3 separate regions of the Homo sapiens genome follow, and regions 2 and 3 are each linked to region 1. The links come from fine-mapping of genetic effects on gene expression. A gene starts in region 1. Each other region holds a variant in brackets. All regions are shown on one strand. Distances are from middle to middle. Region 1 holds the start of RPN1 (ribophorin I). Region 2 overlaps CFAP92 (cilia and flagella associated protein 92 (putative)). Region 3 overlaps RPN1 (ribophorin I).

Evidence for each region. PIP is the estimated chance that this variant, and not a neighbour inherited with it, causes the effect.
Region 2: its variant is the best candidate, but not a certain one, in a credible set for the expression of RPN1 in whole blood (TOPMed, PIP 0.73).
Region 3: its variant is the best candidate, but not a certain one, in a credible set for the expression of RPN1 in whole blood (TOPMed, PIP 0.64).

What each region holds. Positions count from the first base shown.
Region 1 is chr3:128,647,328-128,655,599 of GRCh38, forward strand. It overlaps RPN1 (ribophorin I), which reads right to left and starts at 3,491. Exons shown (of 10, transcript NM_002950.4): 1 at 3,213-3,491. The coding sequence starts at 3,473. RefSeq lists enhancers at 2,715-2,784, 3,455-3,724, 3,885-3,964 and a silencer at 2,935-3,204.
Region 2 is chr3:128,944,290-128,952,561 of GRCh38, forward strand. It overlaps CFAP92 (cilia and flagella associated protein 92 (putative)), which reads right to left. Exons shown (of 16, transcript NM_001394090.1): 10 at 782-1,686. Among named protein-coding and RNA genes, the nearest start is that of CFAP92, 46 kb to the right of the region's middle. The variant G/A (reference allele first, on the strand shown) is at 5,114.
Region 3 is chr3:128,623,931-128,631,930 of GRCh38, forward strand. RPN1 (ribophorin I) reads right to left here. Exons shown (of 10, transcript NM_002950.4): 5 at 6,021-6,213; 6 at 2,803-2,902; 7 at 1,944-2,082; 8 at 1,604-1,723. Among named protein-coding and RNA genes, the nearest start is that of RPN1, 23 kb to the right of the region's middle. The variant G/C (reference allele first, on the strand shown) is at 3,448.

The DNA of each region.
Region 1 (8,272 bases):
ATCATCCTCAATAAAGCTGTACAGTCTAATACAAACAAGTTTCATTACTTTGACTAGAATCTTATCACAGTGGGAATATTCCAGCCAGGCCAAGTGCAGTGGCTCACACCTGTAATCCCAACACTTTGGGAGGACTGCTTGAGGCTAGGTGTTGAAGACCAGCCTGGGCAACACAGCAAGACCCCATCTCTGAAAAAACAAAAAATTGCTCTTAATTAGCCAGGCGTAGTGGTGCGCACATGTAGTCCTAGCTACTCAGGGGGCTAGGTGGGAGGATAGCTTGAGCCCAGAAATTCGAGGCTGCAGTGAGCTCTGACTGGGCCACTGTGCTCTACCCTGGGGAACAGATTGAGAACTTGCCTCAAGAAAAAAAAAAAAAAAAGGAACATTCTAGTATATGTGTGTGTATCAGGAACTCTCATTGTGTTCAGTTATACAGACTTATTTGTTTTATTGAAAAATATTGTTACTTAATAAAATATTAGCATGCCAAAATATTTCAGATACAGGATCCAAAAGAGAGGAAAAATCATTAGATGGGTCCTTGGTGGTAAAAAGAGAAGCAACCACTGGCTCCTAGTCAGTAACCACCATGGTCCCTTCTGCTAGCTCCTAAAATTCTACAAGGGTTTGAAAATAACCCACTGAAGGCCAGGAATGGTGGCTCACGCCTGCAATCCCAGCACTTTGGGAGGCCGAGGCAGGTAGATCACCTGAGGTCAGGAGTTCGAGAGCAGCCTGACCAATATGATGAAACCCTGTCTCTACTAAAAATACAAAAATTGGCCGGGCGCAGTGGCTCACACCTGTAATCTCAGCACTTTGGGAGGCCGAGGTGGGCGGATCATGAGGTCAAGAGATCAAGACCATCCTGGCCAACATGCGTGAAACCCTGTCTCTACAAAAAAAATACAACAATTAGCTGGGCGTGGCAGCACGCGCCTGTAGTCCCAGCTACTCCGGAGGCTGAGGCAGGAGAATCACTTGAACCTGGGAGGCAGAGGTTGCAGTGAGCCGAGATTGCACCACCGCACTCCAGCCTGGCGACAGAGCAAGACTCTGCATCAAAAAAAAAATACAAAAATTAGCCAGGCGTGGTGGCATGCACCTGTAATCCCAGTTACTCCAGAGGAGAGACAGGAGAATTGCTTGAACCCAGGAGGCAGAGGTTGCAGTGAGCCAAGATAGCGCCATTGCACTCCAGCATGGGCAACGAGAGTGAAACTCCGTCTCAAAAAAAAAAAGAAAAAGAAAAGAACCCACTGAAAAACATTTCAGCAACCTCATCAGTTTCCAACACAACTGTTGGAAAATATACATCTCCTTGTTAAGTTTATCATCCAGTTGTTTCCCACTGGGATAGGAGTACAAAATAGCACATATATCCATTTAACTGGTGTCTTGGACTACAAAATTGAAAATGATTTTAAATAAATCTGTTAATGTGACTGCAAGTCTTATACCCAATACAATCCTATCTCACAGCCATAAAAGCCAGAAGAGGCAACATTATACAGTGTGAGAACACACAACTTACGGAATAAGCTGGAGCCCTGACTTACTCTGCACTGTAAGACCGCATGTAAGGGGCTAAATAACTTAACCTGACAGACTACAGCCTCCTTGCCTGCTATATGAGGATTTATACCTTAAATGGTTGCTATGAGGGCTAAATGAGAATATATTTAAAATACCCACCATAATATCTGACACACAGTAGAGTCCCAGTAAGAAAGTATCTTACCACAGAAACAAACAAACTAAAGGACAAAAGGAAACTTCTGGAGGTGACAGATATGTTTATTACCCGGATTGTGGTAATGGTTACACCAGTGTATACGTATTTTGAATATACTAATAATAGGCAGTTTTTTGTATACCAATTATACCTCAATAAAGTTGGGAGAAAAAATAAAAACAAGATAAAATAAGTACATTAACCTAGCTCGCAGGCATGATGGCAGGATAGCCGAGCTCCTGCTGTGGTCCACTTATACTGTAACAAGCTCATTAAATCACAACTGGCTTCTATAAAGAACGGGATTTAACATTCAAGACATTCAAAGATGGCAAGGCAAATTTACATGAAGTTTTGATCTATCTTTCCACAAGCCTTTGAGTAAAACTTTATTTCATCATGGACAACGCATGAAAGAAAATAGGAGTCATTTCAGAAACGTAATCTCTATAAACCCATCTTTATAGCTCCATATTCAGTCAGAGAACGAAGTGTGCTTAGAAGAAATGTGACACTATAATGACTATTCTCTCAACAAATAATTAGGTAATCATTTAATGAAATTGTTTAACAACAATAGTAATAAAAACCAAACCTCTGTGTATGTACATTCCCTTTACTCCCAAACCCAACATTTTCTTTGGTGATCACTGAAATACCTGGAAACATTTAAGCCAAACACAGCCATTTATTGCCGAGGTGTAAGAATGAGAAGCAGCAGGGGGAAGGGAGAAAATTGGACTTTCCTTTTCTGTACAGCATAAGAGAACTTATATTACGTGCAGGAGTTTTAAAACTAACTTTAAAAAGAGTTTTAACATTTAGAAAGCGTTCACTAGGAACCTTAAAATGCATCACATTCATAGGGATTTCAAGTGATTACCAACTTAAAAATGCGAAACCTGTTACATTTCTGATGGTTCTCTATGTCTAGAAAGAAGCACCTACAACGGACCAGATACTGAATTAAGAGAATGAAATTCACTTTAATTCATTTATTTGTCCTCTACTTGAGCCACCTCGTCGGGCCGTGAGAAATGAAGTCTGGCGCCCGCTGGCACCGGGCCGAGGGGCTGCCGCGCTCGCCTTACGGAAGGGAGGTGCGTTCTACCGGCCCGAGGTCTCCCGAGCGGTGCCGAGAACGGCCCAAACAGGGGCAAGCTCCGAGGCTGGTCGGCCGCGGATCCCAGCAGCTGCCCACGTGAGCAGCGACCCGCGCGGGGGCAGGCCGGTGCTGACGTGGCCCAGGCAGGAGGGCGGGCGCGCACCGGGGGCAGCGGAGGCGCCGGGGCCCCTGGCCACCCAGGACTCCTCGCGGGCCCCGAGGCAATCCCACGGACCCCCTGTGCCCCGCCCGCCGCCCGGGTCTCCGCATTTCCTGAGGCCTAGAGGGGCGCGGGCGGAGTCGGGGGACCGCCAGGAAGGGAGGCGGGAAGGGTCCCGGGAGCGGCGGCGAGGGGTCGCCCACACTCACCTGCACGCCCAGGTGCGCCAGCCGGGCCTCGAGCTCAGGCTCCAAAGCCAGCAGGAAAGAGGTAGCTCGGGACGTGGAGCCGCCGCCCAGGTGCGCCAGGACCACCTCGGCCGTCACCTTAGCCAGGTGGCTGCTTAGGTCCACTGTGCGCTTCACGTCCTCATTGATCAGCGGCGGTGCCTCGGAGGAGGCGCTGCCCGGCGCCGGGGCCCAAGTCCCAAGCAACAGGAGCAGAAACAAGCCGGCGGCTGGCGCCTCCATGACCGGGAAGAGCAGTGCGCCAGGGCGGGTAGGGCCCGGGCGCGGTAGCCCGCCCTCCCGCCACTGAGCAGCCGTTCATTGGGCAAGGGCTGGTGACACAAGATGGCGGCGCCGAACAAGGAAGGACCCTGTCTCCGGGGCAACCGGGAAGCCGACCCGGCGCCTGATTGCTAAAGCCCTCTCAGAGCTGCTCGGGATATCCTTCTGTTCGTAGTGCGAGTGTACTTACTTTTTTTTTTTTTTTTTTTTTTTTTTTTTTTTTTTTTTGAGACGGAGTCTCGCTCTGTCGCCCAGGCTGGAGTGCAGTGGCACGATCTCAGCTCACTGCAAGCTCCGCCTCCCGGGTTCACACCATTCTCCTGCCTCAGCCTCCCGGGTGGCTGGGACTACAGGCGCCCGCCACCACGCCCGGCTAATTTTTTTTTATATTTTTAGTAGAGATGGGGTTTCACTGTGGCCTCCATCTCCTGACCTCGTGATCCGCCCACCTCGGCCTCCCGAAGTGCTGGATTACAAGCGTGAGCCACTGCGCCCAGCCGCGAGTGTACTTATTATTACTAGTTTTCACTTACCTAATTTTTACAGGAGCGGCCCTTGCCTAGGTCTCTACTCTCTCCTACCATTCTTCCTGTCCAATAATTCTGCTCGTTTTGCTCCTTAAAACAGTGAAATTTTGCTCAGATTGAGAAAGTAAAAGTTGGCCTTCCCCAACATCCACGGATGAATGCTAAAATTAGTAGGCAGAACTTGAAGCCGAAACAGGATATATGCAAAGTTTCAAAACATCTCTACTAAAATGTTTAGTAATTAGGCCGGGCACGGTGACTCACGCCTGTAATTCCAGCGCTTTAGGAGGCCGAGGCGGGTGGATCACCTGAGGTCAGGAGTTCGAGACCAGCCTGGCCAACATGGTGAAACCCCGTCTATACTAAAGATACAAAAAATTAGCCGGGCGTGGTGGCAGGCGCCTGTAATTCCAGCTACTTGGGGTGGCTGAGGCAGGAGAATCGCTTGAACCTGGGAGGCGGAGGTTGCAGTGAGCTAAGATCGCGCCATTGCACTCCAGCCTAGGCGACAGGGTGAGACTCCTTCTCAAAATAAATAAATAAATAAATAAAATAAAATTAGCCGGGTGTGGTGGTGCGTGCCTGTAATCCCAGCTACTCCAGAGGCTGAGGTACCAGAATCATTTGAACCCGGGAGGCAGGAGATGCAGTGAGCCAAGATCGTGCCACTGCACTCCAGCCTGGGCGACTGGGCGAGACTCCCTCTCAAAAGGAAATTAAAAAATAAAAATAAAATGTTTAGTAATTACAAAGGAAAAAATAGTTTACAGTGGAGAATCCTGGCAGGCACCACTTTAAACAAGTGATCAAAGTTAACATCACCACATATAAAATATAGTAACATTAGGTATCTACTAATAGGATCCATTGAGAAAGGCACATCACTTCTGTGGTATTGCCACAAAATTATTGAAAATCCATTACCTCAATCTAGTCATAAATATCAGACAAGGCCAGGCACAGTGGCTCATGCCACCAATCCCAGCACTTTGGGAGGCCAAGTAGGGAGGATCCCTTGAGCCAAGGAGTTCAAAACTAGACCGGGCAACAGGGTAAAACCCCATCTCTACAAAAAATCAAAAATCAGCCGGGCCTGGTGACAAGTGCCTGTGTTACAGGAAAGGGGTCTGGATCCTGACCCCAAGAGAGGGTTCCTGGATCTCACGCAAGAAAGAATTCAGGATGAGTCCGCAGTGCAAAGTGAAAGCAAGTTTATTATTTTTTATTTTATTTATTTATTTATTTGAGATGGAGTCTCGCTCTGTTGCCCAGGCTGGATTGCAGTGGCGCAGTCTTGGCTCACAGCAACCTGTGCCTCCCGGGTTCAAGCAATTCTCTGCCTTAGCCTCCCAAGTAGCTGCGATTACAGGCGCCCGCCACCACGCCCGGCTAATTTTTGTATTTTTAGTAGAGACGGGGTTTCAACATCTTGGCCAGGCTGGTCTTGCACTCCTGACCTCGTGACCCACCTGCCTCAGCCTCCCAAAGTGCTGGGATTACAGGCATGAGCCACCGCCCCCAGCCAGCAAGTTTATTAAGAAAGTAAAAGAATAAAAGAATGGCTACTCCATTGACAGAGCAGCCCGAGGACTGCTGGTTGCCCATCTTTATGGTTATTTCTTGATGATATGCTATACAAGGGGTGGATTATTCATGCCTCCCCTTTTTAGACCATATAGGATAACTTCCTGATGTTGCCATGGCATTTGCAAACTGTCATGGCGCTGGTGGGAGTGTAGTAGTGAGGACTCATTGCCATTTTGGTTTTGGTGGGTTTTGGCCGGCTCCTTTACCGCAACCTGTTTTATCAGTAAGGTCTTTATGACCAGTATTTTGTGCCGACCTTCTATCTCATCCTGTTGAGAGGTGACAGCGTGCGCCCTCCCTCGCTCTCGGCGCCTCCTCGGCCTTGGCGCCCACTCTGGCCGCGCTTGAGGAGCCCTTCAGCCCACCGCTGCACTGTGGGAGCCCCCTTCTGGGCTGGCCAAGGCCGGAGCCGGCTCCTTCAGCTTGCAGGGAGGTGTGGAGGGAGAGGCGCGAGCGGGAACCGAGGCTGCGCACGGCGCTTGCGGGCCAGCTGGAGTTCTGGGTGGGCCTGGGCTTGGCGGGCCCCGCACTCGGAGCGGCCGGCCGGCCGGCCCTGCCAGCCCTGGGCAATGAGGGGCTTAGCACCCCGGCCAGCGGCTGCGGAGGGTGTGCTGGGTCCCCCAGCAGTGCCGGCCCACGGGCGCTGCACTCGATTTCTCGCCGGGCCTTAGCTGCCTCCCCGCAGGGCAGGGCTCGGGACCTGCAGCCCGCCATGCCTGAGCCTCCCCCTCCTCCGTGGGCTGCTGTGCGGCCCCAGCCTCCCCGACGAGCGCCGCCCCCTGCTCCAAGGCGCCCAGTCCCATCGACCACGCAAGGGCTGAGGAGTGCGGGCGCACGGCCGGGGACTGGCAGGCAGCTCCCCCTGCCGCCCGGGTGCAGGATTCACTGGGTGAAGCCAGCTGGGCTCCTGAGACTGTTGGGGACTTGGAGAATCTTTATGTCTAGCTAAGGGATTGTAAATACACCAATCGGCAGTCTGTATCTAGCTCAAGGTTTGTAAACACACCAATCAGCACCCTGTGTCTAGCTCAGGGTTTGTGAATGCACCAGTTGACACTCTGTATCTAACTACTCTGGTGGGGACTTGGAGAACCTTTGTGTGGACACTCTGTATCTAGCTAATCTAGTGGGGACGTGGAGAACCTTTGTGTCTAGCTCAGGGATTATAAAGACACCAATCAGCACACTGTCAAAACAGACCTCTCCCCTCTCTGTAAAATGAACCAATCAGCAGGATGTGGGTAGGGCCAGATAAGAAAATAAAGGCAGGCTGCCAGAGCCAGCAGTGGCAACCCGCTGGGGTCTCCTTCCACACTGGAGAGTTTGTTCTTTCGCTCTTGGCAATAAATCTTGCTGCTGTTCACTCTTTGGGTCCACGCTGCCTTTATGAGCTGTAACACACACCACGAAGGTCTGCAGCTTCACTCCTGAAGCCAGCGAGACCACAAACCTACCGGGAGGAACGAACAACTCCAGACGCGCCTCCTTAAGAGCTGTTAACACTCACCGCGAAGGTCCTCCGCTTCACTCCCGAGCCAGCGAGACCACGAACCCCACCAGAAGGAAGAAACTCCGAACACATCCAAACATCAGAAGGAGCAAACTCCAGACACGCCACCTTTAAGAACTGTAACACTCACCGCAAGGGTCTGCGGTTTCATTCTTGAAGTCAGTGAGACCAAGAACCCACCAATTCCCAACACGCTGTGACTTAAAATGCCTTAACTGTATGGGAATGCAGCTCACAGGTTTCAACCTCGTTTTACCCAGTTCCTATTCAGGATGGAGTTGTTGTCGTTCACATGCCTCTGACACCTGTAGTCTCCGCTACTTGAGAGGCTGAAGCAGGAGGATCACTGGAGCCCCGGAGATCAAGGCTTCAGTAAGCTATGTTCATGCCGCTTCAGCCTGGGTGACAGCAAGACCCTGTCTCAAAAAACAAAACAAGGCTGGGCATGGTGGCTCATGCTTGTAATCACAGCACTTTGGAAGGCCAAGGCAGGAGGATTGCTTGACCCCAAGGAGTTTGAGACCAGTCTGGACAACATAGCAACATTCTATCTTTACAAAAAATATTTTAAATTAGCCTAGTGTGGTGGCATGCCCCTGTAGTCCCAGCTACTCAAGAGGCTGAAGTGGGAGGATCACTTGGGCCTGGGAGGTTGTAGCTGCAGTGAGCTGTGATCATGACACTGCACTCCACCCTGGATGACAAAGTGAGACTTTGTCTCAAAAAAAAAAAAAAAAGAAAAAAGAAGGCCGGACGCCATGGCTCACGCCTGTAATCCCAAAACTTTGGGAGGCTGTGGCAGGCAGATCACCTGAGGTCAGGAGTTCAAGACCAGCCAGGCCAACATGGTGAAACCCCGTGTCTACTAAAAATACAAAAAATTAGCCAGGTATGGTGGCACACACCTGTAATTCCAGCTACCTGGGAGGTTGAGGCCGGAGAATCATTTGAACCCAGGAGACAGAAGTTGCAGTGAGCCAAGATCATGCCACTGCACTCCAGCCTGGGTGACAGAGCAAGACTCCATCTCAAAAAAATAGTAATAATAAAAAAAATAGATAAAATCAGACAAACCAAAATTGAAGAAAATTCTACAAAATAACCGACTCTTCAAATATTAATCCTTCTTACCTCCA
Region 2 (8,272 bases), 300 kb after region 1:
CTTGTGTGGACATATGTTTTCACTTCTCCTGGGCTTATAATAGATACAAGGCCAGCTTCTCCCGGTGCCTCTGGGCCCATCAGCACAGGAAGGCAGGTCTCCCAGAGGTGCAATCCCCTTCTGGGCAGACAGCCTCAACTCCGGGACTCCCCACTGCATCCAAGTGGGTCCTGGGGCATCTGAACTCTGAGGACAGATGGGGGCCCTCCAGACTAAAGGACGGAGATCCGATCTACCCAAACTAGTATACTTGCAAATTGTGAAAGGAAGGGAGAGGTGTCATGTCACCAAAACTAAAAAATGGAGGAACTGCAAAGGGCTACCCGCTGCAGCCCAGAATTGGACACTTTAATTATTCACTTCTAGTGTTCCCACTGAGTGGCCCCCAGGTACCCTGAAGGCCTTCAGGGAAGGGCAATTTCCTGCAGCCTAAGCAGCCCCTCCATCTTCAAAATGATCTTCCCTGGGGCAAGGTGAAATCTAATACAGAATATTCTGCTCCTGTTTAGCCACAGTAGCCCTTGGCTCAGAACCCTGAAGACAGGCCCCACTCTCCTGGACCCCTCAGTCATCTTAGATACTCCCGAATTCCTCCCTGGAACCAAAGCCAATCGAGTCTTCAAGTCCAATGACTAAACCCTGGTAAGTACCTCACAATGAACCCCGAAAGGAGACTCACAGACAAGGATGCTAAACCTAGGCTTGGCTCTGAAAGACCTCTCCACTCCCTCGGCATCCAGATGCCATCATTTTTATGTAAAATGTAAAACAAACCACCTACCAGCTTTGGTGGTTCTCCCACAGCTGCCTCAAGCCTTGGTCGGCCAGGCCTTCCAGGATGAAAAGGTGTGTCTTCCCGTCCAGCAGGTGGAAGCCAGTGAGCACATCCAGGTGCTGCTGCTCCTGGACCCGCACACGCACCTTGAAGGCTGACAGGATCTGCTGCAGGGTCCTGACAGGGTAGGAGTCCAGGCCGAGGGCCTTAGCGTTGATCATGGTGATGTCCTGCAGCAGGCTGTGGAGCAGGGAGACCTTCTTAAAGTCAAAGACGAAGATGATGCGGCCAAACTGGGAGCCCCCAAGGTCAGGATCAGCAGCTCTGGCCCCGGCCCTCAGTGGCACCGCGATGTCCACTCGCAACTTGAGCTGGGAGTCAGCCTCTAGGTAGTTGCCCCTGGGCATTGGGCCGTGCTGGTGGCCATCTCTGGGGACCCCAAGCCCCACAACCTTCCTTCTCCTGCTGTCCTGGCCGCAGTGTGTGGGCTGAACCTCACAGCTGTGGATGGGGACGGCCAGATTCAAGTACTTGTGGCCAAGGAGGAGGTCAGCAAAACTGACCTGGGCGATGCCATAAGGGTACCACATCTTGTTCTGGGACTCAAAGGGGTTGTTCTCTGTCTCTCTGGGAGAGATGAGGGCCTGGAAGTTGAGGTATGAATCCAGAGGGTCCTCCCCAAACAGCACGGGCTTCTGAGAACACTCCTCTGACTTGCGGTCCCGGTCGTGAACTTCCACCACCATGGGGGGGCCCTCCAGGTATTCCCTTAGGTCACTGGGGTGCAGTGCCCCAAGGAAGATGACGTTGATGTCCTGGAAATAAACGTGGGTTCCATGGGGCTCCCCCTTGGTCTTGTGAACTGGAGTCTTATGGAACTGGTACTTGCAGTACACAGGCATGCACAGCCTCTACGAGAGAGCAGGGCCACAGCAGGTCACCCAGCCACAAGGACAGTCACTCAGCCCCAGCATGAGGAGCTCAAATCCCAGTGCCAGGCTCATTGCCTGTCCCTGTAGCCCAAGTTTTCTCATCCACAAAATATCCATAAGAGACACTACTGTGCAAGGTCATTACTAGGACTGCAGACATCATGCATGTGAACGCACCAGGATGGCGACTGGCATGAAACAAGGACTCAAAAAGCATTCGTTACTTATTTTCCTCCCAAAATGTGAGTGCCATGAAGATAGGCCATGTGTCCTTTTTCATACCTGTACTTCTAGTTCCTATCCCGAGGCTGGGCACAGAAAAGGTACAGAGAAGTGATTTTTAGAAAGGAAATCTCTGTTTTCCAAATATATATCTGGGGGTCGACACAGACCCCTTTAGCAGAGCCACAGGTGCCAAGCTGAAAACTGACACTCTGGGCAGGAGACAGCCTCAGAGAGGTCTGGGCCTCAGAGAGCACGGAGAACAGGGTGGAAAGGAAGAGCCAAGCTATGCTGAGGCAGAAAGCAGGGACATTTGCATGGTTTGACCTTGGTGCTGAGATTTTATCATCACAAATTAAGCCTTACACAAGTCTGTGGTCTGAATTCGTAATCTAAAGGCACTATTTATTTTACACGGAAGCTGAGAATTTATTCTAAAATAATCCCGGATTGGCGGTGCTCCCAGAGCAGTGGGCAGAGACACAATACCTCTGGAGATAGTCACTTTCAACCTAGGCCTCAAAGAATTCCCATCAAGAAAGTTCCATTGAACACGAGATCATGGTAAAAATCACAGAACACGTAAAGACAAAGGCACTACTAGTGAAATCAGATGCACCAAGGCATAAGATATTAGAATGATCAGAGATATAAAATAAGGATATAAGTTTAAGAAAAGAAAGAATATAATCAAGGTAAAACCTATTGTATTTCTATTTATTTGTAACTGGCTTGGCACAGTTGAGAAAGCCAAATACCAACCACACAATGGAGAAGCTGAGAACCAACCAGATTTTCTCTGTAAAACTCTCAAAAGACTTGGGAATGGCAAACCTAGTATCTCTGGAACTGGCAGTAAAAAGGAACGGCTGGAGCAGGGAGGACTGGGTGCAAGTTCCTTAAGAAGCAATCAGATCCCTAGGTGTCCCCCCAGTGGCTCGGCAGAAGTCTACTAGTTTGCTCTCCATGCAAAATGTAAATAGGGGGTCCTGAAAACTTCAAAGCACTGATGAAAAAAAAAAAAGATGTAAATAAATGGAGAGATGTACTATATACATAGATTGGAAGACAATATAGCAAAGATGTCAACTCTCCTCAAACCAATCAGTTTATAGGTTTACAAATGTAATGCAATTCCAATCAAAATCCCAGCACAACTTTTTGTAGATATTGATAAACTGATTCTAAAATTTGTATAGAAGAGCCAGGAAACTGGAAGAGCTAAAACAATGTTGAAAACTAAAGTTGGAGGAACCACTTCACCCATTTTTACGACTTACTACAAAGCTACTATAAGCAAGACAGTGTCGTGTTGCTGAAAGGACAGACACAGACCCACGGATCAGAAAAGAGAAACCGGAAACAGATCCACACAAGTATGGCTAATCTATGTTTATCAAAAGTGCAAAAGAAAGAAACTTCAACGTAAACCTCACACCATATACAAAAATTCATTCAAAATTGATCAAAGGCTGGGTGTGGTGGCTCACACCTTTAATCCCAGCACTTTGGGAGGCTGACGCAGGAGGACTGCTTGAGGCCAGGAGGTTTGAGGTTTCAACGAGCTACAACTGCACCACTGCACACCAACCTGGACAACAAATGAGATTCTGTCTCAAAAAAGAAAAAAATTGATCGAAGATATAAATGTTAACTATAAAACTATTAAAGCATTGAGAAGAAAACAGAAAAAAAAAATCCTTCTGACCAGGGGTTAGGCAAAGAGTTCTTAGATGTGACACAGAAACACAATGCATACATGAAAAAAAATGTATAATTTGGACTTCATCAAAATTAAAATTTTTGCTCTGCAAAAGACACTGTAAAGAGAATGAAAAGATGTGCTTGTCACAGATTGGGTTAAAAATAAAAGAGAATGACAAGACAAACTACAGACTGGGAGAAAATATTAGCAAATAATATATCCAACAACAGACTTAAATCCAGAATGTGTATGTAAACACACATTTATTATATATATATATTTATGGTGAGACAGGGTCTTGCTCTGTTGCCCCGGGCTGGAGTGCAGTAGTGCAATCATGGCTCACTGCAGCCCCAACCTCCCTGGGCTCAGCTGATCCTCCCACCTCAGCTTCCCTAGTAGCTGGGACTACAGGTGTGTGCTACCATGCCCCACTAATTTTTCTTTTCTTTCCTTTTTTTTTTTTTTTTTTTTTTTTTTTGTAGAGACAGAGTTTTACCATGTTGCCCAGGCTGGTCTTGAACTCCTGAGCTCAAGTGATCCTCCTGCCTCAGCCTCCCAAATTGCCAGGATAACAGGCGTGAGCCACCGTGCCCATCCCGGAATTTTTTTTTTTTTTTCCCTGAGACAGGCTCTCGCTCCATTGCCCAGGCTAGAGTACAGTGGCTCAATCTCAGCTCACTGCAACCACCACCTCCCCAGTTCAAGCAATTCTCCTGCCTCAGCCTCCTGAGTAGCTGGGATTACAGGCACGCGCCACCAGGCCTGGCTAATTTTTGTGTTTTTAGAAGAGATGGGGTTTCACCATGTTGGCCAGGCTGGTCTTGAACTCCTGACCTCAAGTGATCCGCCCGCCTTAGCCTCCCAAAGTGTTGGGATTACAGGCGTGAGCCACCGTGCCCAGCCTAGAATATATATTTTTTAAAACTCCCAAAACTCAGCAGTAAGACAGTAAACAACCCAACTGAAAAATGAGCAAAAATTTGAGCAGAAATTTCACCAAATGGGATGTAAAATGGCAAATAAACACATCAAAAGATGCTCAACATCATTATCCGTCAGGGAACTACAAATTAAAACCATGATATGATAACAATACAAACTTCTTAGACTGGCTAAACTTAAAATACTGACAATACCACATTCTGGAGAGGGTAGGGAGCAACTAGAACCCTTGTTCACTGCTGATGAGAATGCAGAGTGATCAGCCGCACTGGAAAATGGTGGGCAGTTTTTCATAGTCAGGCATATACTTAACATATAGCCTAGCAATTTCATTTGTTGGCATTTACCCTAAAGAACTGAAAACTTATGTTCCTATAAAAACATGTGTACACTGTTTTTAAGCAGCTCTATTCATAATTACCAAAAACTAGAAGCAACCTAAATGTCCTTTGATGAGTGCACGAACAAACTGTGGTACACCCTTGTGATGGAATACTGCTCAGCAATGAAAAGGAAAGAACTACCGATAGATGC[G/A]GCCACTTGAATGAATCTGAAAGGCATTACCTTGAGTGGAGAGGCCATGCACATTGTTATCTGCTGAATCAAAGGTTACAGCTGCATGATGCTGCAAAACACAGAGCCCCATTTACATGACATTCTTCCAGAGTTAAAACTATAGTCATAAAGAACACATCAGTGGCTGTCAGAGGTTATGTGTGTGAAGCAAAAGTGATTATGAAGGGCGAGTACAAAGGAGGGGTTTGGGGTAACAGAACTGTATCCTAACTGTAGTGGTGATAATATTGATCTATACGTGATTTTATTTTATTTTTCTGAGACAGAGTTTCTCTCTCATAGCCCAGGCTGGAGTGCAATGGCGCGATCTTGGCTCACGGCAACCTCTGCCTCCCAGGCTCAAGCAATTCTCCTGCTTCAGCCTCCTGAGGAGCTGGGATCACAGGCACGTGCCACCACGCTCAGCTGATTTTTGTGTTTTTAGTAGAGACAGGGTTTCCCCCATGTTGGCCAGGCTGGTCTGAAACTCCTGACCTGAAATGATCCACCTGCCTCAGCCTCCCAAAATGCTGGGATTACAGGTGTTAGCCACTGCACCTGGCCTGATCTATACATAATTTTAAATTTATAGACCTATAAACCAAAAGATAAACATCAATTTTACTGTAGAAAAATTTGTTTTTTAAAAAAAATAACAGAGGGTCTCTGGAATAGGGGATAGTTGAGGGCATCTGTGCCGTTCCCAAATAGGGAGATTAGGTGACCAAATGCTCACTGCTTAGTGCAAATTCCCAGCTCCTTTCTGTCTGTGGGCATTCAGAATGCAGCAGGCTAGACCCTGACCCCCCAGGCAGGGAACTAGGAAAGCCCTGTAGAACCCAGGGGTTCCCACCAACGCCCCACTCAGATCACCCGATGGTGAAGCTCAGAGCTGAGAAGCCCACCGTGCACCCAAAGCTCGCCTTTTAGGTCTGTGCTCTCTCAGCCATGAGCAGTGGGCCAGGGGATTAACAGACAGTGGAGGAAAACGTCTGACCTGGAAGGTGGAGTGAAACAAACAGGAAGATCAACCTAAAGGAAGCGGACTACACACGTGACGACAGTGCCCATGAAGCAAGCTGGAAGTGCTGTGTCCCAGGCCCCCGACACCCTCAAGTTCAGTGATTCGCTAGGAGAACTCACAGAACTCAGCATGGGTGCAGCGCACTTGTGTCTGTGATTTATTACAGCAAAAGAGACAAAGCAAACAACAAAGGGGGCAGGCACAAGCTGCTGAAGTCCTCTCCCAGGGGATACACACAGGGGGTGCTCAACTCCTCCCTGATGCAGTGCAGCAACGTGTGAAATGCTGTCCACTGGGGAAGCCCATGAGGGACTCACTGCCTAGGGCTTTTGCTGAGGCCTGGTCACATAGCACCCCCTGCCTAGCATGTATGAAAATCTCAGCCTCCCAAAGGGAAAGCAGGCATTCAGCACAAACGATACTGTTTGCAAAAGCCATTTAGGCACAGTGAGCCATTCTTAACGGGGAGTGCGGGGAACCCTCTCAAAATGCAAGTTCCCATATACCAGCCTGGGTCAACTCTGCAAACAGGACTTTTTAAGGACGGTAGTCTCAGGCCCACTCTGTTCACTCTTTTCTGAACATTTCCTAGAAAAAGGATCAATTAGGAGAGAAAGAACAATAAAAACAAGTAGAAGATAGCTGGGTGTGGTGCCAGGCACCTGTAATTCCAGCTGTTCAGGAAGCTGAGGCAGGAGAATTGCTTGAATCTGGGAGGCAGAGGTTGCAGTGAGCTGAGATCGTGCCACTGCACTCCAGCCTGGGTGACAGAGCGAGACTCCATCTCAGAAAAAAAAAAAAGGAAAGCCCAGGAGAGTCAGCATCTAGCTAACAGAGTCCCAAAAAGAAAGGGGGAAAAAAATGAAGAAATAATCAGTGAAATAATTTAAGACAATTTCCCGGTGCTGAAGGATGTGGGCTTCTAGGTTGAAATGGCCCACTGAATCCCCAGCTTCACGGGTAAAAATACACTTACAGAGTTCCTGTTCTGGATCAAGATGGAATAGACACACTTCTAGTTCTACTAAGTACAGCTTTAAAACTCTGCAGGTTGTATATATAAAAAAAAAATACAAAGACTTTGAAAAGTACAGAAAAGGTGTTTAGGGAACATGGGATCCTGGGTCTTCTATTTGCCTCATATATTCCGGACTGAGTGCTGGAGAAGGCAGTATCCAGAAATACCAGTGAGAGTAGGCAGAAAGGACCCCAAGAAAAGTCTGCTTTCTCCATATCAAAGACGAAGAAAGGGACAACTCAGCAGAACAGCAAACTTTTAGGCAAATAACCTCCCTACCCCAGACACACACCATGGAAAAAATCATGCCCCACCCCAGAAACAAAGGCTACATGGGAAGCCTGGACTTCTACCCTCACTGACTTTAACTTGGTGCTCCTTACCTCACTGGGGTAGTGTCAGAAAAGACCTGGTGGGGAGCCAGGACTTTCCCCAACCCTCAATGGAAATGAAGCCTCCCATCATGTATCAGTGAAGTCCACAAGAGCAGTAACAAGATATCCCTACCCACAGGGTACAGTGGCCAAGTGGGGAACCTGGAGTCTCACCTGGCAGTATTGAGATGGTAACTCTCTCATCTCCCCCTCCACAGGCCTGCTACACATGCAGTTTGGTGTTGGAGAAGGCCTGCTACACATACAATTTTTTTCTTTCTTTTCTTCTTCTTCTTCTTTTTTTTTTTTTTGAGAGACAGGGTCTCTGTCATCCAGGCTGGAGTGCAGTGGTGCAATCATAGCTCACTGCAGCCTCAGCCTCCTGGGTTCAAGCCATCCTCCCACCCCGGCCTCTTGAATAGCTGGGCTACAGGTGTATGCCACCACATCTAGCTAATTAAAATAAAAATTAAGAAGGGATCACACTGTGTTGCCCAGGCTGGTCTTAAACTCCTGGGCTCAAGTGATTCTCCAGCACCCAGCTTAAACGTAAGATTCAAATAAGATACAGTCTCATAATGTAATACTCAATATATCCAAGATAGAATTTTTAAAAAATCACCTGTCATACCAGAAAAATCAACTTGAATGGGAAAAACCAATGAACAGACACCAACACTGAGATGATACAGATCTTGGAATTATCTGAAAAGGAATCTGAA
Region 3 (8,000 bases), 24 kb before region 1:
TCAAGGGTAAAGGGGCACAACGTCTGCAACTTAACCTCCAATGATTCAGCAGAAATAATTACACACACACACACGCACACACACACACACACAGTTATTCCTCGAGCCCCCGCCCCCCCGCATCTCCGACTATCTGCACATACTCAAGTCCTGTAGTCAGCCCTGTGAAACCCAAGTATACAAAAAGTCAGCCCTCCACATATTTGGTTTCAGTTCCCTCAAACACTGTATTGAGTACTGTATTTCCTATCTGCATTTGATTATAAAAATCTGACCAGGCACGGTGTCTCATGCCTGTAATCCCAGCACTTTGGGAGGCCGAGGCGGGTGGATCACGAGGTCAGGAGATTGAGACCATCCTAACACGGTGAAACCCCGTCTCTACTAAAAATACAAAAAATTAGCCGGGCGTGGTGGCACGTACCTGTAGTCCCAGCTATTCGAGAGGCCAAGGCAGGAGAATTGCTCGAACCCAGGAGGCGGAGGTTGCAGCAAGCTGAGAGCGCACCACTGCACTCCAGCCTGGGCAACAGAGCAAGACTCCGTCTCAGGAAAAAAAAAAAAGAAAACGAAAAGAAAAAAATCTGCATATAAGTGGACCCACACAGTTCGGCTGGATCAACATCTTTGCTCACAGGTCCTACCAAAACCCCTCCCTGCTGTCTCACAAACATCAGCCCCTCCAACTGAATGCCCTTCCCCACCTTCTTTGCCTGTCACCTCCTCAGGGTAGCCTTGGGGCCTCCCAAGTTGCCCCACTAGAAGCACACCCTTGGTGCGCACCTGTGGTCCCAGCTACACAGGAGGCTGAGGCAGAATCGCTCGAACCCGGGAGGCAGAGGTTGCAGTGAATGGAGATCGCGCCACTGCACTCCAGCATGGCAACAGAGCGAGACTCCATCTCAAAAAAAAAAACACACGCTGTGCCTGTCATCACATTCCACAGTCCTCAAGCACCAGCTGTGCTCATCTCCTCCACCAGGCCTCACCCACCTGACTACAATAAGTGCCTGGTACTAGTGCCTACCCTGGGGCATGGAGCCAAGAGCCCTAAGGAACAATGAGAGAATGAGAAATGGAGGAAGGAAGGAAGAAAAGAGCAAGAGGATGACCTGAGGATAACAGCAGTGCAGCCTGGGGAGGACCAAGGAGCCACGGAGCCTGTCAGGGAGCAGAGAGTGGGAGTGGGGAGAACGGTGCTGACAGGGCCAGGTCAGTGGTTTCTGCTCCCAACAAGGAATCACCAAGGGGGAGGTGGGGAGGGAGAGGGGACTAAGAGGGGACTTCCACCTCCAAGTTCCACTGAATAACAAGAAGCAAAACAGCTAAATAAGCACCAATCTTTTCATGTTTTTCCTACCTCAACTGAGCATCCAAGTTACTCTGTCTCCAGAGCCAAAGCAAGACAGAAGCAGGGACTTAACCTCCTGTGCTAGTGACCACAAGCAACAAAAACAAAGTACCCTTCCGGCAAGGATGAGCACAGGCAGGGGTCTTTTGGCCATGGCGTCCTGCCCTGGGCTCACTGTGAGGATCAGTGCTCAAGCTGGTGAAATATTACCAAGGACACAAATGACAAGCAGGAAGAAGGCAGAGACGGTACCTTGGTGATGGAGAAGTCCAGCCGAACATAGATGATAACGGTGAAGAACAGGATGTAGAAGGCCGCCACCACCAGCAGGGGCTCCTGCAGCATGAGCACCTTGTTGAACGTGTAGTGGACCTGGGAGAAGCAAGAGGACAGGCTTCATCGGGGCTGTAGGGACATGGGAGCCTAGACTCACCCAGGCTGGCCCACTCGACCTGCTGCCCCACCCCAAGACCAGAAGACGCCATGAGCTCAAATGACTCCAGCCCAAGGAGGGACAGAAGGTGAGTTCTTGGCCCCCAGAGCCCACTGTCTGGGGAAGACGCCATGGAAGGCAAACAGTGGAGCCACTCACCACAATGTCCTGAATGTGCTGTTCTACCAGATTTTTCTTGTAGGCAACAATCACAGGGCGGCCAAATGTGTCCAGATAGGTGTAGTGCAGCTCATCTGGGGCACGGCTGATTTCATAGGGACTATCAATTTCAATGTTCCTGGAAGAAGATGGGAATAAAATATAGCCTCCAACCAACTACATCAATAAACCAGATTTAGGATCAGAGAATTCCAAGGCTAAGGAGCCTTTCAAGATCACTAAATTCACACTCCTCCACTCTGCTCCCTTCTCAGCTATGGAGAACACCCACTCTCTTGAGACAGGGGAGCCAGTGCCAGAAAGCCCTTTGTTTTAAAGCCCTTGTCTGCTGGGGCAACAACTGTCCCTCTGAATCCTCCACTCCCAAGTTCTCACCAGTACTGGCCCCACTCCTTGGAGTCACAAAGTTGACACAGCTCTCCTGTACATCCTACCCAGTGAATCCCTGGGAGGCTTGAACAGATGCCTCACGAGCTGTTCTGAATGTTCTTTCTCTTCACATGAATAAGAGCTTCTTACGGGGCAGGGGACATGTCCTGCTTTTGTCTGCCCAGGCCCACTGTCCCTTCTCCTGGTAAACAGCACAGCCTGGATTTGCATGAGGAACTACTCTTCCACTATGGAACATTCTCCACAGGAAGAAAATCAAGGGGTCTCTCATTCTGGCAGTCAGAGTGGACATGTGACTCAAGAGAGGCCAAGTAGATGTTCCCTGATAAAGTAAATCTAGAGAAAAGTGACACAAAGACTGTGCCCCTAGAACATAGGCTCTCCTTAGGGTACCACAAGGGTACAACCAGAGAAATCGGGTGCAAAGGAGAGGAACAGTCACACTCACTTGGCTCCTTCAGGCAGGATGATCTTCACAGTCAGAGAATCTATCACTTGTTCATCAAACACATGGTCCACAAACCTCATCTTCAGTGCATACTGGTCACCTGAAGGATCAAGCAAGCATAAGCAATGATGTGGAAAACGGATCAAATGGGCAGGAGAGAAAGAAGTACAGGGGCTCACATAAAGACAGAGCAAGTAGACAGCAAAACCAAAAACCCACGGACCATGTTTACAACAAAACCAGGCAACAAAGTATCTCTACTGAACCCCACAACACAGAGACAGGGATGGGGGTCAAAACACCGACAGCCACAAGACCTTCACGTTATCAGTGTCTGTGAAGGAGAACGCAGAGAGAAGAAACAGGGCAACTGATGGGCTTGAGAACAGCAGAACCCCAAAACACACAACCGGGATTCCCTAGAGAGCACAGCAGGCCAGTGTGAGGAGTGGCTGAAACTCGGAGCAGTTGTGCCCTGCCTAATGGTGAGTGAAACGGGCCTGCAGAAGGTCTACGAGTCTGCAGCAGTCTAGTCCCTGAGAGCAGAACTCCCCTTCTGGGACAGTGCCCTACAGTGAGGAGAAACTGCTCAACACAATCAAAAATGAACATGATAGGGACAATGGAACTCAAAAACCGCACAGA[G/C]GAAAGCTCAGAAAGCAAGCCACATGTTTTTGCACTAAAATAGCAGAGATCTGGGAAGGTACAAAAGCCACTCTAAACCATCCCTCCTTCGGAAAGGTCACATTAAAAATGATCAACAGACAGTGGCTCATGCCTGTAATCCCAGTACTTTGGGAGGCAGAGGCAGGCAGATCACCTGAGGTCAGGAGTTCAAGACCAGCCTGGCCAACATGGTGAAACCCCATCTCTACTAAAACTATAAAAATTAGTCAGGTGTGGTGGCACATGCCTGTAATCCCAGCAACTTGGGAAGCTGAGGTAAGAAAATCACTGGAACCCAGGAGGTGGAGGTTGCAGTAAGCTGAGATTGTGCCACCGTACTCCAGCCTGGGAAACAGTGCAAGACTCCATCTCAAAAAAAAAAAAAAAAAAGATTAAGTTATATAAGAAAAATGGGATGAAAACAAGAACACCCCTGTAAGAAAATGAAAACATGCCAGCAAGACGCCCATAAAAACGAACCAGGAGACTGCTCCTGCTATTCCAAAACAAGCTAAAGGTATTAATAAAATCATGTAAGTCATGCAAGAACAATGTAAACAATAATTAGAAAAATTCAGGCCGGGCGCGGTGGCTCACTCCTGTAATCCCAGCACTTTGGAAGGCTGAGGTGGGTGGATCACCTGAGGTCAGGAGTTCGAGACCAGCCTGGCCAACATAGTGAAACCCCATCTCTACTAAAAATAAAAAATTAGCTGGGCGTAGTGGTGCATGCCTGTAGTCCCAGCTACTCCAGAAGCTGAGGCAGGAGAATCTCTTGAACCCAGGAGGCGGAGGTTGCAATGAGCTGAGATCGCGCCAATGCACTCCAGCCTGGGAGGTTACAGTGAACTGAGATCGCTCCACTGCACTCCAGCCTGGGCAACAAAGTGAGACAGAAAAAAAAAAAAGAAAAATTCAGAAAAATGATAGAAATCAGGAAAAAAATTTAGAAATAAAAGAGGCATTTTAGGAATTAAGGCTAATTAAGATGGATTAGAGTGAATAACAACAAATAATAATGCTTTAACATAAATGCAAAGAAAAGCAACTTTAATTATTTTTTAGAGACAGGGTCTTGCTCTGTCACCCAGGCTAAAGGGCAACTTCCTGGACTCAAGTGTTACTCCTGCCTCAGCCTCCCGAGTAGCTGAGACTACAGGTGTGAGCCAGATAATTTTTCATTTTTAAAAATTTTTTTGTAGAGACCCGTTTTCACCATGTTGCCCCGGCTGGTCTCAAACTCCTGAGTGCAAGCAATCCTCCCACCTCAGCCTCCCAGAAAAGTTTTAAATGAAAAAACAGGCCTGGCACAGTGGCTTACACCTATAATCCCAGCACTTTAGGAGGCCAAGGCGAGCAGATCACTTGAGGTCAGGAGTTCAAAACCTGCCTGACCAACGTAGTTAAACCCCATCTCTACTAAAAATACAAAAAATAACCAGGCATGATGGCGGGTGCCTGTAGTCTCAGCTACTCGGGAGGCTGAGGCAAGAGAATCGCTTGAACCTAGGAGGCAGAGGTTGCAGTGAGTGAAGATCAAGCCAAGAAAAACAGATGTAGGTATTAACTGCAGATTAATAGATAAGGCAAATTGAATAGATTGAAAAGGGCAAAACTAAGGTATAGTATGTAGAGATATACACTTGGGTGATAAAACTACAAAGATATTCAAGAAAGTGATTACTCAAAGTCGGGGCAATGACTTTGAGAAGGAAGAGGTACATGGAACACTTTTTGAGTAGCTAGCAAATTTTGATTTCTTGACAGGAGGGGGTGGGGAGCGGCACAAGGTCTTCCTCATAATAATTCACTGAGCTATACATTTTTTGTATGGTTTTCTGTATCTTATTTTTCAGTAAAAAGGTTTAAAAAAAAGACTTGGCCGGGCATGGTGGCTGTCACCTATAATCCTAGCACTTTGGGAGGCCGAGGCCTGTGGATCACCTGAGGTCAGGAGTTCAAGACCAACCTGGCCAACATGGTGAAACCCCATCTCTACTAGAAATACAAAAAATTAGCTGAGCGTGGTGGCGGGCACCTATAATCCCAGCTACTCAGGAGGCTGAGGCAGGAGAATCGCTTGAACCAGGAGGTGGAGGTTGCAGTGAGCCAAAATCGCACCATTCCACTCCAGCCTGGGTGGCAAGAGTGAGATTCCGTCTCAAAAAAAAGAAAGACTTGAAAGAAAATATGACAAAATGTTTTCAATCATTAGTTCTGGGTGTTCATATAAAAGTGTTTTTTATTATTCTCTGAATTTTCATTTTTTAAATAACTCAAAAACTATTTAAAGGAATTTCAGCGGTTCCATCTGATGACAGAACTGCAAGTAAGAAGAAGACTTTTACATACTGTTCGGATTGACTATCAAATGCATGTATTACTTTTACAATACTAACTCGTACCCACTTATAAAAAGTTGTTCCTGATAAAACCAGCCTTCCTCAGAATGACAAATGAACACACCCCATCTATAAAGACTGATAATTGAAAGAAAAAAATTCACGAAATTAAAGAAAAGGTTAGTTTCTCCCTTACTATTGAAGACTGACCCAAATTATAGAGGTACTCATAGCTTGGGAGGTTGTAGCCAACGATGTAATGGGTCTTCCACCCGCCAAAGAGAGGGAAGCGAGGCCGGATTTCCATCTCTACAGAGTCATCCAAAATAAGGAGGTGGCTGGTAGAAACATTGCCAATCTCATCCCGGTAATAAACATCCTGGGCAGCAGCAGGAAGGATGGTCTGCAAGAGAGTGGATATGCCCTTCTAAAACTCCAGGAACCAGCTGAGAGGAAATGATCCTAAACACAGAAGACTTCCTGCACCAAGATCCTCACATGGTACTACTTAATTAAAATAGTCCCCAAACATAAACAACCTAAAAAAGTCTAACTTTCCCCACAAAGGTTTGCGTCGACTTCTCAATCAAGGGTGCTAACTACCCAAATTCTTCTAAACAGTAAATAATTAAGGGAAATGCAAATACCTTTGTGAACATTGAAGACTTAATACAAAGGTAAAAATAATCTTGCAAGTTATTTTGCAGAGAAGAAAAGTAAAGATAGAAGACGGAAGAAATTTCATCAAATTACTAGGTGGTAGGGTTACAGAAAGGGTTTTTCTACCTGATATACTTTATTGTATCTTCCAAATCTGTCAGTGTATTTTGATCATGGGAGGAAGGTATAATACCTTTGTTCACATACTGACCCCTTCTATCATACATAAGTAAAAAAAAAAGTTTATAAGATTTCATTTATGGGACAAAAAAGATTTAAAAACTGTATATGCAATATGATAAAATGTTTTTTAAAAACACTACAAAAGAACAAAGAAATAGATCAAAATGACAGCTGTGTTTGGGTGGCGCAGTACTATGAATATGCTTTTCCTTTTTCTATTCAAATTTTCACTTAAAAAATATGGTTTAGGCCGGGCACGGTGGCTCACGCCTGTAATCCCAGCACTTTGGGAGGCCGAGGCGGGCGGATCACAAGGTCAGAAGATCGAGACCATCCTGGCTAACATGGTGAAACCCCGTCTCTACTAAAAACACAAAAAATTAGCTGGGCATGGTGGCGGGCGCCTGTAGTCCCAGCTACTCGGGAGGCTGAGGCAGGAGAATAGCATGAACCCGGGAGGCAGAGCTTGCCGTGAGCCGAGATCGTGCCACTACACTCCAGCCTGGGCAATAGAGCGAGACTCTGTCTCCAAAAAAAAAAAAAATATATGGTTTAGGCTGGGCATGGTGGCTCACGCCTGTAATCCCAGCACTTTGAGAGGCCAAGGCGGCCGGGCGCGGTGGCTCATGCCTGTAATCCCAGCACTTTGGGAGGCCGAAGTGGGCGGATCACCTGAAGTCAGGAGTTCGAGACCAGCCTGTCCAACATGGAGAAACCCTGTCTCTACTAAAAATACAAAAAAAAATTAGCCAGGCTTGGTGGTGCATGCCTGTAATCCCAGCTACTCGGGAGGCTGAGGCGGGAGAATTGCTTGAACCTGGGAGGCGGAGGTTGTGGCGAGCCGAGATCGCGCCATTGCCCTCCAGCCTGGGCAACAAGAGCAAAACTCCGTCTCAAGAAAAAAAAAAAAAAGAAAGAGAAGCCAAGGCAGGTGGATCACTTGAGGCCAGGAGTTCAAGACCAGCCTGGCCAACATGGTGAAATCCTGTCTCTACTAAAAATACAAAAATTAGCCAGGTGTAGTGGTGCATGCGTGTAATCCCAGCTATTCAGGAGTCTGAGGCAGAAGAATCACTTGAACCCAGGAGGCGGAGGCTGCAATGAGCAGAGATCACGCCACTATGCTCCAGCCTGGGTGGCAGAGTGAGACTCTGTCTCAAAGAAAAAAAAGAAAATGGCTTATCTATATATATGGGGGGGTATTTTTTAAGATTCTGTTGGTTTCTAACACTGCCAATCAACAAGATGAACATCAGTCAACCCTAAACAACTGCCTAAATATTTAGCTAGTTTCGAAAAGCAAAGAATAGGTAGCTGTGATAAAGTCCTCATTTCTCACAATGTCCA